Homo sapiens: one gene and its partner. The protein of the gene in region 1 purifies or fractionates together with the protein of each later gene. This does not show direct contact. Each region holds a gene or a part of one and is shown in the gene's direction. Other genes may lie near its edges.

Region 1 (8,081 bases):
TGGGCAGCAGAGTCCAAGCCAACCCCAAGTTGGGTCTCCAGTGCTGATCCCATTCGGGGCTCTCCCACCCACCTCTCCATCTCAATCCACATCCTCCCTCGCTCCATCCCACAACCCTGGGCCAGAGGTTTCAGGCAGGGGTTGCCCCAGCTGTAGCAAGTACTGAGGTCCGGGGAGAGCTGGAGTTGGGGATACAGGAGTGGCCACCAGCTGGCAGGGGAAGGTGCAACTTGAGGCCAAGTCTGAGCCACCATGATCTTTACCCACCCCAGGCAGCTTTAGGAGGGGAAGAGAGGGTGCTCCCCCTACACCTTCCCCACTGGTGCCATGCTGAAGGGGCAATTGGGGCTTCCAGAAGAGAAGTCCCTGTGCCCAAAGACCCTGGCACCCTAGTTTCCAGGTCCCCCTCCTATTCCCATCCCACAACCGCCTGCCTGCCTGCCCTCCCCCTCCAGTTCCTCCCCACCCAGCACCCATCCTATCCCCTAACCCCATCCCCTCCCCTGCAGGGAGCCCAGCCTTGAAGCACAGCAGGCTTCTCCGGGTCCCCCTTCATCACCCCGATCCCGTTTCCTTGTCTAGAACAGAGGCCAGCCTAAAACATCTGGGCAGGCAGTCCTAGCGCAAGTTCTGGATTGGGGGTTGGGGGACAGACACTGAGGTCAGCTCCATATGGATTCTCCAGCCTGGGAACGGGTGGAGAATCATCTCATCTTTGTGAGATGAGAGGGGCCATTTTCAACGTCCTCCCACTCCTTCCCACCCACACCCAAGCCATCTCCACATCGAGTCCTTTATCCAAAATTAGTCGTGGCCCCACTCAGCCCTCTCCCTGGCCCACTGCAGGCAGGGCATCAGAGTCAGAGTAGGAGAGGAGGGGTGGGGGGAGAGGGAGGGGCAGAGGGGAGGCAGCTTCAGTCTGCTCATTAACCACCTTGATTGGCCATTTCTGCCCAGAGGGGCGAGGAAGGAGGAAGGGCTTGTGCTGGGGAAGGTGCAGGGCGTGCTCCTGCCAGGCTTTGCCCAAGGGCAAGGGAGCAGGGCCCATGCTTTAGAGTGGAGATGGAGACAGTGCTTTGAACCCTAACCTTGCCGGGCCTGCCAGCCCCACTCACTCACTCACCTTTCCTGTAGAGGAGCCACTGAATGAGGTGGGTGTCTGGGACAAGGGATTCCCAGGACAGGAGTGGTGGCTGGTGGTGGGAGTAGCAGCTGTGGCTGGCAAGAAGCTGGTTTCCCAGAAGAAGGCAGCGAGTGAGCCTGTGTCCAAGCAGGGAGCGGGATGCAAGGAGCAGAGCTGGCCCCAGGGCCACTGCTGGGAGCAACTGAGCAGAGGGCTCTACTAGTGGGGTTCCCTCCCAGACCAGCCCAGGAGGCGGGTCAGCAGTGCACCGCCTCCTTCCAGGAGTCAGACAGCAGTGGGCCCCCTCTGCCAGCCATGGCCTCCTTTAACCCCTGCAATGCCCTGCTGGCTGCACTCTAGCCGGCTCTGGCCAGGCCGTGTCAGGGCACAGACACTTGGGGCAGGAGATCACCAGGGAGTGTGGCTGCCCCTCCTTCAGCCACTGGCCTAGCAGCCTCCCTGGGGACAGGAGGGGTGGGGCCAGAAGACTTGGGGGACAAGGGGGGTGGGGAAGGGAACAGGGAGGCATCAGGGCCTTGAGAGGGCCAGGACCCCATAGAAGAGACACAGGTGCAGAGAAATGTCCAAAGTGCTGCTAGGTGGGGAAGGATGGTTGCTGAGATGATGATGATGATGATAACAATATAGCAACTGTCATCTTTTCTTTTCTTTTTTTTTTTTTTTTTTTTTTTGAGAAGGAATTTTGCTCTTGTCGCCCAGGCTGGAGCGCAGTGGCACAATCTCAGCTCACTGCAACCTCCACCTCCCAGGTTCAAGGGATTCTCCTGCCTCAGCCTCCCCAGAAGCTGGGATTACAGGCGCCTGCAACCACACTCAGCTAATTTTTGTATTTTTAGTAGGGACGGGGTTTTGCCATGTTGGTCTCGAATTCCTGACCTCAGGTGATCCTCCTGCCTCAGCCTCCCAAAGTGCTGGGATTACAGGCGTGAGCCACCACGCCCAGCCAACTGTCAACGTTTCTACAGCACTCTGCTTTATGCTATTTCCAATTCATTTTGTGATTGCAGGCCAGGAATCTCACTTCTTTTTTATTTTAACTTTTTATTTTAAAATAATTATGTGTTAACAGAAGAGATTCAATGACGGTACAGACAGTACAGGTCTCATATACCCTCCACCAGCTTTTCCTAAAGATAACGTCTTACATTACGTGCCACATGTGTCCAAACTAACTAATTTGCATTGCTGCAATGCTATTCAGAGGACTGTGAGCCTTATGAAAATGTCACCATATTCTGAAATGTCTGTTTTCTGTTCCAGAACCCAATCCAGGATCTCACATTACATTGGATTGTCGCGTCTTCATAATGTCTTTCAAAATGTGACAGATTTTCCGTTTCCTTGTTCTTTCACAAACACCACACTGTCTTGATTACTGTTGCTTTAATGGTAATTTCTAGACTCTGAGAGCTGAGGATACCGATACACCTGTGTGTTTAGTCAGTGGGAATTTTGTACACTTTTCTGTATTTACGAAATATTTCAACACGCTAATACAGACAAATGTCTGAAGCTGCCTTGTCAGTCACCGTCTCTGTGAGATGAGAGAGGTCATTTTCAACTTCCTCCCGCTCTTTATCACCCATGTACAAGCCATCTCCGCATCCGGTCCTTTCTCCCAAGTTAGTCGTGGCCCCACTTAGCCCCCTCCCTGGCTCATAATGTCTCTAACCCCAGCCACTGGCACCACCCCGCAGATGGCTGCCCCACCTCCCGGGCCCCTTGCTCTGCCTTCTGCCCTCCCAATCCATATACACACAGCACACATGGGAGGGCTCCAGGAGAGCCAGGAGAGGAATAGGGGCATGGAAGTAGCAGGACTGGCAGTAGGAGTGCCCTGGCAGGCAGCCCAGATGTCCGGGTAGCCACTGAGCCTTGGCTCCTGAGGGGATCAGCACCCAGTAGATGTTTATCCACCCCAAGAACGAGGGTATCACACCTCCTCTAGTGAGGGCCCAGGTGATGGGTGCAGGCTGCTCTTCCCTAAGCCCCTGAAGAGGGGAGCCCCAAGCAGCAGCAACCCCCACTGGAGCCAGAGTCAGGGCACACCAGCTGGGATGGAGCTTGTTCCCCACAGTTAGAGGAGGGAGGGAGTCACAGGCAAGCTCCAGGCTCTCCCAAGAGGCCGCTTAGAAACCAGCTCATCTGATGCAGATAGACACTCATCCCCATCCCTGTCCCTGCCACTGTTGCACACCAGCACACACACCTTCCCCTCCTTCTCGCCTTGATCATCCACCTCCACTGCCCCTGGCACCTCGCTCCATCCCAGCCCCACTGACTGTCCCTGCTCCTGCCCACCCTAGCCTGGCCCAACAGGCACCCCCTCATCCGTGTCAAAGCTGGCTGTGTGGGAGGTGGGGAGGCAGGGACATGGGGTGAAGCAAGGAGACCCACCAACAGGGAGTCCTGAGGTCACAGGGACCTAGAGAGGAGTTACCCATCCCTGGTGATGCCAAACACCTCCTCTTACTCTCCCAGGGAGAAACCAGCGCCACACCTGTACCAGGCAGAGTGGTTCCCTGGCAGACACCTGCCTCCCAGCTCAGACCTGGAGGAGGGCAGGGGGCTGGAGGACAGCAGGGGACTGGAGGAGGGCAGGGGACTGGAGGAGGGCAGGGGACTGGAGGATGGCAGGGGGTTAGAGGAGGGCAGGGGACTGGAGGAGGGCAGGGGGCTGGAGGATGGCAGGGGGTTAGAGGAGGGCAGGGGACTGGAGGGAGGCAGGGGGCTGGAGAAGGGCAGGGTGCTGGAGGAGCGCAGGGGCAGGGATCCTGGACAGGGCCTCAGACAGACTGAATTGGGAGGGCAAGAAAGAGACCAAGGGTGCAAAGTGAGACACAGGGAACAGAGAAAGGGAAGGAATGAGGGAAAGACAGGGATGGGAGACAGGGACATGACACGGGAGACAGAGATGGGGGTTTCAGCCTCTGCATGGGGGATATAGGGACGGAGGAGAGGGCAGACGGGCTGGGGCATCCCTTGTGCTGGTTTTTAGATGCGGTTCCTGGGGTTTGTGAAAACAGCCGTCCTCCCAGGCCCCTGCTCCTCTGCCCCCATACTAGCCCCTGCAGCAGCCCAGCCTGGAGAAACGAGGACCCAGCATGGAAAGACCCCAGCCTCAAGGAGGCAGAGCACAGCCAGGAAGGGAAGCCCCAGCCCACCTGGGAAACCCACCTGGCCCATTGCTGGGCACAGGATCTCACTGGTGGTCTCACATCCATCCTTTTGGGAATGAGATCAGGACTAGGGATTCGGCACTGGTGACCAGCACTCAGGTGGACCGCTCAGCTGACTGAGGTGGAGAAGGAAGGAGGAGCGTGGTGGGACCCTCGCCCTGCCCTCCCCACTCTGGAGCGCTGCCTCTCAGCCCAACCAAGTGACAGAGACGAGACAACCACAGGAATAGCAGCTGCGGAGCTCCATGGCCTCCCTCTGCCCCCTGGTGGTGAGAAGGAGAAAAGCAAGAGCAGGTGCTGAAAACGAAAAGGAAACTAGCAGCAGTCCCAGCTACCACAATGGATCAGCCCCCATTTGGCCAACAGGTGACTCTACCCCAGGTGGGCCTGAGAGGACCCATCCCCCATCTCACCATTCTGCCCCAGCGCCCTGGATCCTGCCTCTACCACTTCTTCCCTGCAGCGTCTGCGGTTCCCCCACCGCTGTGAGCCAGGTTCCCCCTCCAGGCTGCTGGGCTGGGACTGAGTTACTTCTTCCCAGGCTGTAAATCCTGGGACTGCTGTGCAAGGCAGAGTCACTAGGGACGGACTCTGGCAGCAGAGCTGCGCTCTCGTGCCCCAGCCAGCCAGGCTCTCCTGGGTGAGTAGCAGGGAGACCCCTGGAACTTACGGGGATAGAAGGAGTGTGATGCCAGGAGCCAGGGGAGGAAAATGCCTGGCAGAGACGAGGGAGAGGAGGAGACACATGGAGCCGTTCATGGATTTCACACAGGATCTGGGCTGGAAGGGGCTGCCGAGACCATCAGTCCAATCTTTGGTCTACAGGTTGGGAAACTGAGGCTCAAGGAAGGTGAGTGATTTGCCGGAGATCACACAGTGAGTTCATAGCCAGGCCAGGATGGAGACCCAGGTCTCTGGACTCCTGACCCCGTCCTCCCTGAATCCCATGCTCCACCCACCTCCCTCATTTACCTCCGTTTCCCTCTCCCCTTCCCTCCACTGTGTCCCACTGCTGTACCACTGCCACCCCACCCCAAACTCCAACAGCCACAGCCCGGGAGGCAGGACACCTGGGTTTTCCGCTCCATGCCTGGTCTTGACTCTAGGATCTCAGAATAAGGCCACCAGCTGTCAGGGCCACAGTGTCCCTCTCTGGGCCCCAGGACCCATGGGGAGGAGAAGAGGATGAGATCCCCCTGGAGAGAAAGGCAGTATTACAACCAGGCGCCCTGCTCCCCACACACACGCAGCATGTGCTCAGCCCCAGCCCTGGGGCCGTGCTTTACTTCTGCACCCTCTCCTCAAAGAACACATATTTTCCATTCAGCTGGGGCACAGGAAAGGATGAGTAGGTGTCTCGAGGAGACTGAGTACCCAGGCAAGGCTAGGGGCACTCCATGGGGAAGGAGTGGACACCCCCAGCCTAGTGTCCACATATCATGAGCCCTCACGGGGTCACTCACACCAAGTCAGGACCCAGAACACAGGCCCTGTGGGCACAGACACCTGAGTTCAAGTCCTGGGTACCTCTGTGATGCTGGATAAAAGACTTACCCTCTCCAATCCCCTGTTTCTCCTGGTCTAAAATGGAGTTAATAACCTCCAGGATTATGTGAGGATTGAATGGGACAAGGACATCAAGTGTTAGCACAGTGTCGTCACCCAGGGACTGCTCAATCGGTGGAGGCCACACCATCATCTTCACACACTGGCCTACAAGATAGAGCTGGGATTCTCCCCCTACTAGGTAACTTGCTATGTCACCCAAGATTAGTCACTTTCCCTCTGTAGGCTCTGCGTCCTGCTTTGTGTAAGGAGAGAGCTGGGCAGTGAGGCCGAAAGTCCTTCCTGAGCTCACAGTCCAAGTTGCAAGGAATCACATCATTTCCAAGTACCCATGGCAGAAGAGGGAGCCATCCTCAAGGTCACCAAAGACCTAAGAGGTGAGTGTGTCCTGAGAGATGCTCTGGGACTGAGTCATGGGAGAAGTCAGGGTCTGGGAGCCCCTCCCTCAGCGACCTGACATCTGCCATCCTCCCAGCAGCTGCCGTCTCTGCCATCCTCCAGGGCTATGGGGATGGGCAGGGGCCAGTGACGGACACCAGTGCCGAGCTGCACAGACTCTGTGGCTGCCTGGAGCTGCTGCTGCAGGTGGGACCTTCTCCTCCCCTTCCCCATCCCTCTCCCCAGACCCAGATAACTGGTGGGACATTCCTGGAAAATCAGGGAGGAGCCACAGCCCCCTTCCTTACCATGCACTGTGTCATCTCCCTCTCCCTCCTGACACCTAACCTCACTCTTGGAGTTTGTCACTGCAGCCTAAGAAGTGAAGTGGGGCAAAGCGGGGCTGGAAGGGACCCAGGCCTGGTGGTGGGACCCAGACCTGGGGGCAACCCCCACTGCTTAAACTTTCAGAGGCATTGATGTCCTAGGACTGGCCCTTCCTGCTGCTACTCAGAGCCCCAACTATGACCAGCACCGCTTTTATTGAATACTTGCTATGTGTCAGACTTCAGCCTCTATATGCCTGGCTTTATGCAATCCTCACTCTCGCCCTCTGAGACGCTTGATGTCCACCCCCCAACACCCCGACACACATCTTCCTGCTTCTCTGACTTCATCTTTTGCCACCCTGCCACTCATCTACTGCACTTCAGCTCCCCTGGCCTCTTGGATCTTCCTGGAGCACACCAGTCATGCTCCTGCCTCGGGGCCTTTGCTCGGGCTCTCCCCTCTACTTAGAATGCTCTTCCACTGGAATGCACAGCATACTTTCTCAGCTCCTTCAAGCAGGAAGGCTTTTCTGGGCACCCTAGATTTTCAACACACGTGCCACACACACCACACACCACAGCTACCACAATGGATCAGCCCCCATTTGGCCAACAGGTGACTCTACCCCAGGTCGGCCCGAGGGGACCCATCCCCCATCTCAGCATTTTCCATTCTCTTTCCTGCTTTATTTTTTTCTCCGTAGCAGTCATCACTATCTAACATACTCGATGCTTTACTTATCTCATCTGTTTGTTGTCTTAACTCCTTTATCAGGGCCACAGTGTCCCTCTCCGGGCCCCGGGACCCATCGGGAGGAGAAGAGGATGAGATCCCCCTGGAGAGAAAGGCAGTATTACAACCAGGCACCCTGCTCCCCACACACAGGCAGCATCTGCTCAGCCCCATCCCTGGGGCTGTGCTTTACTTCTGCACCCTCTCCTCAAAGAACACACATTTTCCATTCAGCTGGGGCACAGGAAAGGATGAGTAGGTGTCTTGAGGAGAATGAGTACCCAGGCAAGGCTAGGGGCACTCCATGGGGAAGGAGTGGACACCACCAGCCTAGTGTGGATCAAGATGTAAGTATCAAGATGTAAGTTCCATGAAGTCAGTTTGTTCATAGTTGTATCCCCAGACACACAGAGGAGGGCCTGGAATATAGCAAGAGCTCAATAAGGGCCTCTGAATGAATGAATAAGAACACTGAGGCTCAGGGAGGTCAAGCCCCTTGCTCGTGGTCACACAGCCAGTAAGGACAGGGCTGGGTCTGGATGCCGGGTGTGTCTGCAGGAGCCCTCTCCTCCAGTACATGTCCCCTCAGCAAGCTAGAATGCAGGGCGTGTTCTGGGAGGAAGCATTTCTACACTTTCTTTGCCTCATTTTGGTTCTAGTTTGACCAGAAAGAGCAGAAGAGCTTCCTGGGGCCTCGGAAGGATTACTGGGACTTTCTCTGCACTGCCCTACGACGGCAGCGGGGAAACATG
Region 2 (8,062 bases), on another chromosome or scaffold:
TTGCCATGTTGGCCAGGGTGGTGTCAAACTCCTGACCTCGTGATCCACCTGCCTCGGCCTCCCAAAGTGCTGGGATTACAGGTATGAGCCACCGTACCTGTCCCAGCCTGTACTTTTAACTCACAGCTGTGATAATTGTCAACCTCAGCAAGCCTTGTGGGGCATTAGTCCCATATATAGATTATATATATATTATATGTGTGTGTGTGTATGTGTGTGTGTATATATATTTAGACAGAGTTTCACTCTTTGCTCTGTCTCCCAGGCTGGAGTGCAGTGGCACGATCGAGCTGACTATAGCCTTGACTTTCTGAGCTCAAGCAATCCTCTCACCTCAGCATCCCAAGTAGCTGGGACTACAGGTGTGCACAATCGTGCCGGCTATTTTTTAAATTTTGTGTGGAGATGGGGTCTAGCTATGTTGCTTGGGCTCATCTCTAGCTCCTGGGATCAAACAATCCTCCCTCCTTGGCCTCTCAAAATGCTGGGATTACAGACATGAGATACCGAGGCCAGCTTGGTCCTATTTCTTGAGACCCCTTGACTGGATGTTTCAGGGAAGCATATTCTGGCTGAGTTTACTGGATAATTTTCTTGTAGAGCTTGTTATGAACTGAATGTTCATGTTCTTCCCAAATTCATATGTTTAAATTTATTCCCCAATATGATCATATATGGATGTGGGGCCTTTGGGAGGTAATTAGGTCATAAGGGCAGAACCCCCATGAATGGGATTAGTGCGCTTCTAAGAAGAGACCAGGCTGGACACGGTGGCTCATGCCTGTAATCCCAGCACTTTGGGAGGCTGAGGCAGGTGGATCACCTGAGGTCAGGAGTTCGAGACCAGCCTGGCCAACATGGTGAAACTGTGCCTCTACTTAAAATACAAAATTAGGCCGGGTGCGGTGGCTCATGCCTGTAATCCCAGCACTTCGGGAGGCTGAGGCAGGCGAATCACCTGAGGTCGGGAGTTTGAGAGCAGCCTGACCAACATGGAGAAACCCTGTCTCTACTAAAAAATACAAAAAATTAGCTGGGTGTGGAGGTGCATGCCTGTAATCCCAAGTACTCAGGAGGCTGAGGCAGGAGAATCGCTTGAACCCAGGAGGTGGAGGTTGTGGTGAGCTGAGATTGCGCCACTGCACTCCAGCCTGGGCAACAAGAGTGAGACTCTATCTTAAAAAAAAAAAAAAAAAAGAGACCAGACAGCTAGTTTGCTCTCTATCTGTCATGTGAAAATACAAGAAGCCAGCCATCTGCCATTCAGAAGATGACCTTCATCACACCCTACCCATGCTGGCGCCCTGATCTCAGTGTTGTTCTAGTAATTTCTTATATCTGCCCAAACCAACTAAGACAAATAGCCACATCATCAAAGCATTCTGCCTGTTAGGACTTTTGTAGAGGGGAGAGAGTGTGAGTATGAGGTTGGACCTGGTTATTTTAGAAATTCCTTCCAACCTTAGATGTCTGTAAATTCCTTGAGGGCAGGTTTTGTATGTTTGAATTGTCACCCTTCAGAGGAGATGCTTAGGAAATGTTAAAGATGCTAAAGGAGCACAGCCCCAGGACCTAGACAGTACGGGGACTGCTTTGGATGTTCTCATTTGATCATTGTGGGCTGGGCTGTGGCAGGCTCTTACACTCTCTGAGCCTCCGTTTTCTCATTGGTAAAAATGCAGAGTAATAATACCAGCACTTTGGGAGGCCGAGGTGGGAGGATCATGAGGTCAGGAGTTCGAGACCAGCCTGACCAACACGGTGAAACCCCGTCTCTACTAAAAATACAAAAATTAGCCGAGTGTGGTGGCGCGCACCTGTAATCTCAGCTACTCAGGAGGCTGAGGCAGGAGAATCGCGTGAACCCGGGAGGTGGAGGTTGCAGTGAGCTGAGATCGTGCCACTATACTCCAGCCTGGGTGACAGAGTGAGACTCTGTCTCAAAAAAGTAAATAAATAAATTTAAAAAAAAGCAGAATAATAGTCCCCGCTCTCCTTCCCCCACAGATTTGCTGAGACAGCAACATAAATTGATTGAAGTGTGTACATTGCAAATAAGCAATGTTTCCTTTTGCCAGCTTTCAATCTTGCTTTCCAAGTTGCTTGCCTTATCCACTTACAGACAGAATAAGAAAAGACCTATGCAAAAAGTAGAGTCTGTGGGGTCTGACAGCCCTGGATTTGAATCCCTAAATAGCACCAGCCATTTGTGTGACCCCAGCCAAGTAGGGTATCCTTTCTGGACTTCAGCACTAAAAATAGCTCCCTTGCTTGGATCTTATGAGGTAAGCTTGGAGCCTAGTTTCTGCACTCAGACCTCCATTAGCAGTGGCCTTTTAAATGTATCTTTTCTGTATTCTCTGTTAAGCCCATACGCTCTTTTGTTTATTTATTCATTTAAAAAAAATAAAAAAAACCACTTTTTTTTTGAGACAGGGTCTTGCTGTCTCTCCCAGGCTAGAGTGATCATGGTTTACTGCAGCCTCGACCTGGCTGGACTCAAGCGATCCTCTTGCCTCAGTCTCCTGAGTAGCTGTGGCTACAGGTTTGTGCCATCCTGCCCAGCTAATTTTGGTATTTTTTCCAAGAGACAGAGTTTCCCTGTGTTGCCCAGGCTGGTCTTAAACTCCTGGGCTCAAGCAATCCGTCTGCTTCGGCCTCCCAAAGTGCTGGGATTACAGCTGTGAGCCACTGCACGGCCTCCATGCGGTCGTAACACCATGAGGTAGCCACGTTGGGCAGCTTGTGCGTTGTCAGGGAGACACTCTTCCTCAGCCCCTGGGCACCTCTGTTGAAAACTTCCTGGCTGTCTGGCAGGCTGGAAATCAGCTCTATTTGTTTTGCCCTGAAGATATGTTTTATTTATAACTCATTCTGACTCTGTAGAAAATAATTCAATAAAAACTCAATTGGTTTTCCACTAGCCCTGAGCAGGGATGAGGGATAGTATCTTATTTTATAACACATGTGATAATAAAACAGCCCTGGTCACATAGCCCAGAGCGGGTAAGTGCCTGCTGGCTGAAAGGAAAAATGCTGGCTCAGACCATTTCTCCCTTGCTGCTGTATGTGCTGAGAAAACCACTCCTGTCCTCTTTACTTTTCCATTTTAGGATTTTTTTTTTTTTTTTTTTTGAGATGGGCTCTCTCTGTCACCCAGGCTGGAGTGCAGTGGTGTGATCTTGGTTTACTGCAGCCCCCGCCTCCCGGGTTCAAGAGATTCTCCTGCCTCAGACTGCCTAGTAGCTGGGATTACAGGCATGTACCACCACGCTCAACTAATTTTTGTATTTTTAGTGGAGACTGGAGTTTCACCATGTTGCCCAGGATGATCTTGAACTCCTGACCTCAGGTGATCCACCCGCCTTGGCTTCCCGAAGTGCTGAGATTACAGGTGTGAGCCACCACACCCAGCCCTTTTTAGTGTTTGTTGTTGTTGTTGTTTGAGATAGAGTTTTGCAGTTGTTGCCCAGGCTGGAGTGCAATCGCATGATCTCGGCTCACTGAAACCTCTGTCTTCCAGGTTCAAGCGATTCTCCTGCCTCAGCCTGCTGAGTAGCTGGGATTACAGGCGCGCGCCACCACATCTGGCTAATTTTGTATTTTTAGTAGAGACGGGGTTTCACCATGTTGGCCAGGCTGGTCTTGAACTCCTAACCTCAAGTGATCCACCCGCCTCAGTCTCCCAAAGTGTTGGGATTACAGGTGTGAGCCATTTCTCCTGGCCAGGATTTTTTAATTGAAAAAGAAATACATGTACATGTTAAAAGATTCAAACAGAACATTAAACATACATAACGGAGAGCGGCTCTCTGTTTTCAATTTTCCCTGCGGATGCCACTGTTAATTCATGTGCTGGGCATCTTAAGTCTGTAAGCCTCCCCCATCTCCTGCTTTATTTTATTTTATTTTTGAACCCAGAGGGGTTTAAATCCTTAAATGGCTTCTGCCCGCACTTAGCAAGCTTGGCGCCTTGGCACTGAACTAACGACAGCTGTCCTAGCCCCTGTCGCCTCTTTGGAACCTTTTATGTGGATGGATTGTTGGGGCCCTCAAAGTCGGGAGTGCCATGGTGCCAGCTGGGGATCAAGACCGCGCGCCACACAGGGGGAAGCCGGCCCAGGCTGGGGCTCGCACCTCACGTGCCTCCCGGGCCCTGCGATCCTGGAGGCGCTCCCAGGCCGCGCGCGCCACGGTCACCCACCCACGTGGGGGGCACGACCGTGGGAGTCACGGGGGGTACCGTGAGGGTCACAGGGGGTGCCGCAGGGATCCACAGTGGGCTTCCGCGGGGCCTCCACCCCTGAGCTTCACAGAGGAAGTGAAATTTGAGCTGCGCGCCCTGAAGGACTGGTAAGCGGCGGGGACAGAACTGGGCCTCCTTCCAGCTGCGCCGCCCCAGGTGCAGAAGCTTTCCTCCTAGTCTCTGTTCTCTTGCTCCGGTCCCTCCCTCCCTCCTCGCTCCATCTCCCTCCATCTCCCTCCTTCCCTCCTCCTCTTCCTCCCTCCTTTCACCCCTCCTTTTTCCCTCCCTCCTCCCTCCTCCACCCTCTCCCTGTCCCCCGCTTCTCTCTCTCGCTGCCCCTCCCTCCTTCTTTCACCCCTCCTCCTCCTACTCTCCTCCTCCTCCCTCCCCGTCCCCGCTTCTCTCCCTCGCTCCTCCTCCCTCCTTCTTTCACCCCACCTTTTTCTCTCCCTCCTCCCTCCTCCTCCTCCCTCCCCATGTCCCCTCCCTCCCTGTCCCCTCTTCTCTCCCTCGCTCCTCCTTCCTCTTTTCTCCCTCGCTCCTACCCCCTTGCTTCCCTCGCGTCTCTTGCAAAACCCGGGACGGATCGGGGGCCCAGGCCTGGCCTCCGCGCACGCGCAGGAGCAGCGCCGGCTCGGCCGCCAGTAGGAAGCGCCAGCCCAGAGCCTGGGAAGTGGCCGCAGAGGCTGCTCGGCCCCGCTGCCCGCCAGGTCGTGGGCTCCCGCTCCGGGCCCGGGGCCACCGGCTGTGTAAGTGCAAAGCGGGGGGGCTCCCGGTCAGGCAATTCGGACCGGCTGCGGGGAGGGCTGCGCGGCTGGCCGTGGAGTCGGCGCGTCCCGCGGAGGGGCTCGCCCGGCCCTCACCTGTCCGGGCGGAGCCCGCCACACCTGTCCGGGTCCGCTGCCGGGCCGGGGTTCAGCGTGCACCTGCTCGAGGCGCCCTTGCTCCTGTTGGCGCTCTGCTTACATCTGTCCAAGGCCGTGTCCCACACCCGCTGAAGACTCGGCGGACACCTGTCCGGGACCCGGCCCACACCTGCTGCCCGGGCCGGCTCTGCTCTCCCGAGCTCGCGGCGGGGGTCCCCTTCCCCTCTGTGCCTCCGAGCTGTCTCCGCCTGGCTTCCCCTCCCGGGCCGTCCGCGGCGCTGGAGCCCCCCGCCCCTGGGCCTGGCTAAGCCCACTGGAGCCCGCGGGGTCTGGGACGCGCGGCTGGGGCCTGGGGCCCAGCACAGCCCACGCCCCCGGCGCTTTCCCCGCCCTGAGTTCCCGGACTTCTCCCCTAGCCCTTTCCCTCCTGTCTCCTGGATTCAAAGTGCCTGCGATCTAGCTGGGCGGCATCAGGCGGTGCTCTCTGGGATAAGCGCGCTGTCAACTCCAACTTATCCCAGGGAACCCTGGGGAGAGGAAGTCAGGCTACTGGCCTGTGGTCTTCTCCCTGTCAGCCCACCCCAATCCCCTCCACCCCTGCAGACCTTCCCAACGTGAATGTCTGTTAACCGAAAGTTTTCCCGTGTTAGGATGCGTTGTCTGTCTTCAAATGTTTCTATAGAGAGAGGAATTAAAACGCTGGAAGCAAGGCCCAGTTGAAAGGTATGGGGGAGTGACTTCCCTTCCATCCCTCACGGCCCCAGTTTAAACTGGTGACTGTCCCGTGTTTCTAAGGTAGTCATAGCTACCTATGACATCTTTATTTGTTAACCTGAAACAAAGCACCGGGTGGATGATGTTGGAGGCCCAGGAACATTGCCGTCCTAAAGATCTGGCTAGGTTTTGTTGTGTGTGTTTGTTCGTTTTTTTAATTGTGTGGAGGACTAGTAGTGTAGAGGGAAAAACAGTTGTCCGGAAACATGTAAACAATAAATGTTTCAGAAATCTAGTGTGTCAAAAATAACAGCTTCATTGAGCCTCGATTACCTGCCATAAAATCCACTGCTTTAAAGTGTACAATTCAGTGATTTTTCTTTTTTTTTTTTTTTTGAGACGGAGTCTCGCACTGTCGCCTGGGCTGGAGTGCAATGGCACGATCTTGGCTCACTGCACCCTCCGCCTCCTGGGTTCAAGCGATTCTCCTGCCTCAGCCTCCTGAGTAGCTGGGATTACAGGTGCCTGCCACCATGCCCGGCTACATTTTTTTTGTATTTTTAGTAGAGACGGGGTTTCACTCTGTTGGCCAGGCTGCTCTCGAACTCCTGACCTCGTGATCCACCCGCCTTGGCCTCCCAAAGTACTGGGATTACAGGCGTGAGCCACCATGCCTGGCCAATTCAGTAATTTTTAGTATATTCACACTTGTGTTACCATTGTCATTCCAGAACATTTTCATCACCCCAGAAAGAAACTCCATACCCATTAGCAGTCACTCCTCATTCCCCCCTCCGACAGCCCCTGGCGGCCACCGGTTTACTTTCGATATATATAGATTTGCATATTCAGGGCATTTCCTATTAATGGAATCATACAACATGTGGCCTTTTGTATTTAGCTTCTTTCATTCAGCACAGTGCTCTAAAGTTATTCATGTTGTGGCTTACATCAGCACTTTGTTCCTTTCTGTGGCTGAATAATATTCCATTGTATAGATTTAACATTTTGTGTATCAGGCAGTTGATGGACATTTGTGTTGTTTTCACTCCTTAGCTATTAAGAATAATGCTGTGCCTGGCCAGGCATGGTGGCTCACGCCTGTAATCCCAGCACTTTGGGAGGCCGAGGCGGGCAGATCACGAGGTCAAGAGATCGAGACCATCCCGGCCAACATGGTGAAACCCCCTCTCTACTAAAAATACAAAAATTAGCTGGGCATGGTGGTGGGCGCCTGTAGTCCCAGCTACTTGGGAGGCTGAGGCAGTAGAATCCCTTGAACCTGGGAGGCGGAGTTTGCAGTGAGCCGAGATCGCGCCACTGCTTTCCAGCCTGGCGACAGAGTGAGACTCCATCTCAAAACAACAAACAAACAAAAAACAAGAATAATGTTGTGCCTGTAATCCCAGCACTTTGGGAGGCTGAGGCGGGTGGATCACCTGAGATCATGAGTTCGAGACCAGCCTGGACAACATGGCAAAACCCTATCTCCACGGAAAATACAAAAATTAGCCGAGCATGGTGGCTCACGCCTGTAGTCCCAGCTACCCGGGAGGCCGAGGCATGAGAATCGCTTGAACCTGGGAGGCAGAGGTTGAGGTGAGCTGAAATCCTGCCACTGTACTCCAGCCTGGGTGACAGAGCGAAACTCCATCTCAGAAAAAGAGGAATAATACTGCTATGTACATTCCTGTACATGTTTCTGGTGTGGACACATGTTTTCAGATCTCTTGGATTGCTGGTTTTATAGTAGCTCTATGGAGGAACTACCAAGTTGAAGATACATATTTTTGCTGTTTTAATACCTGTATTAGCTTAGTCTCAGATACCAGAACTGGCTCAGTGGCAGGTGTCTTTTTTTTTTTTTTTTTAAAGAGTCTTACTTTGTCACCCAGGCTGGAGTGCAGTGGTGTGATCTCAGTTCACTGTAACCTCCTCCTCCCTGGGTTCAAGCGATTCCCGTGCCTCAGCCTCCCAAGTAGCTGGAATTATAGGTGCATGCCACCAAGCCTGGCTAATTTTTGTATTTTTAGTAGAGAAAGGGTTTTGCCATGTTGGCCAGGCTGGTCTCGAACTCCTGACCTCAGGCGATCCACTCGACTTGGCCTCCCAAAGTGTTGAGATCACAGGTGTGAGGTCAGGTTGTGTTTTTTTTTTTTTTTTTTTTGAGAGGGAGTCTTACTCTTATTGCCCAGGCTGGAGTGCAGTGGCGTGATCTCGGCTCACTGCAACCCCC

What was found.
Region 2: the proteins of RUFY4 (region 1) and TRAPPC9 purify together in Homo sapiens (affinity purification with mass spectrometry; 3 studies listed by BioGRID and IntAct, with this or other methods). This does not show direct contact.

The regions. Positions count from the first base shown.
Region 1 is NC_000002.12:218,064,386-218,072,466, forward strand, and holds the start of RUFY4 (RUN and FYVE domain-containing protein 4), read left to right. Parts: upstream 1-4,867; 5' UTR 4,868-4,963; exon of another isoform or gene 4,964-5,095; 5' UTR 5,096-5,173; intron 5,174-6,114; 5' UTR 6,115-6,220; coding exon 6,221-6,266; intron 6,267-6,364; coding exon of another isoform or gene 6,365-6,367; coding exon 6,368-6,474; intron 6,475-7,988; coding exon 7,989-8,081. UniProt on the Homo sapiens protein: ARL8 effector that promotes the coupling of endolysosomes to dynein-dynactin for retrograde transport along microtubules. Acts by binding both GTP-bound ARL8 and dynein-dynactin.
Region 2 is NC_000008.11:140,454,572-140,462,633, reverse strand, and holds the start of TRAPPC9 (trafficking protein particle complex subunit 9), read left to right. Parts: upstream 1-4,889; 5' UTR 4,890-4,995; intron 4,996-8,062. UniProt on the Homo sapiens protein: Functions as an activator of NF-kappa-B through increased phosphorylation of the IKK complex. May function in neuronal cells differentiation. May play a role in vesicular transport from endoplasmic reticulum to Golgi.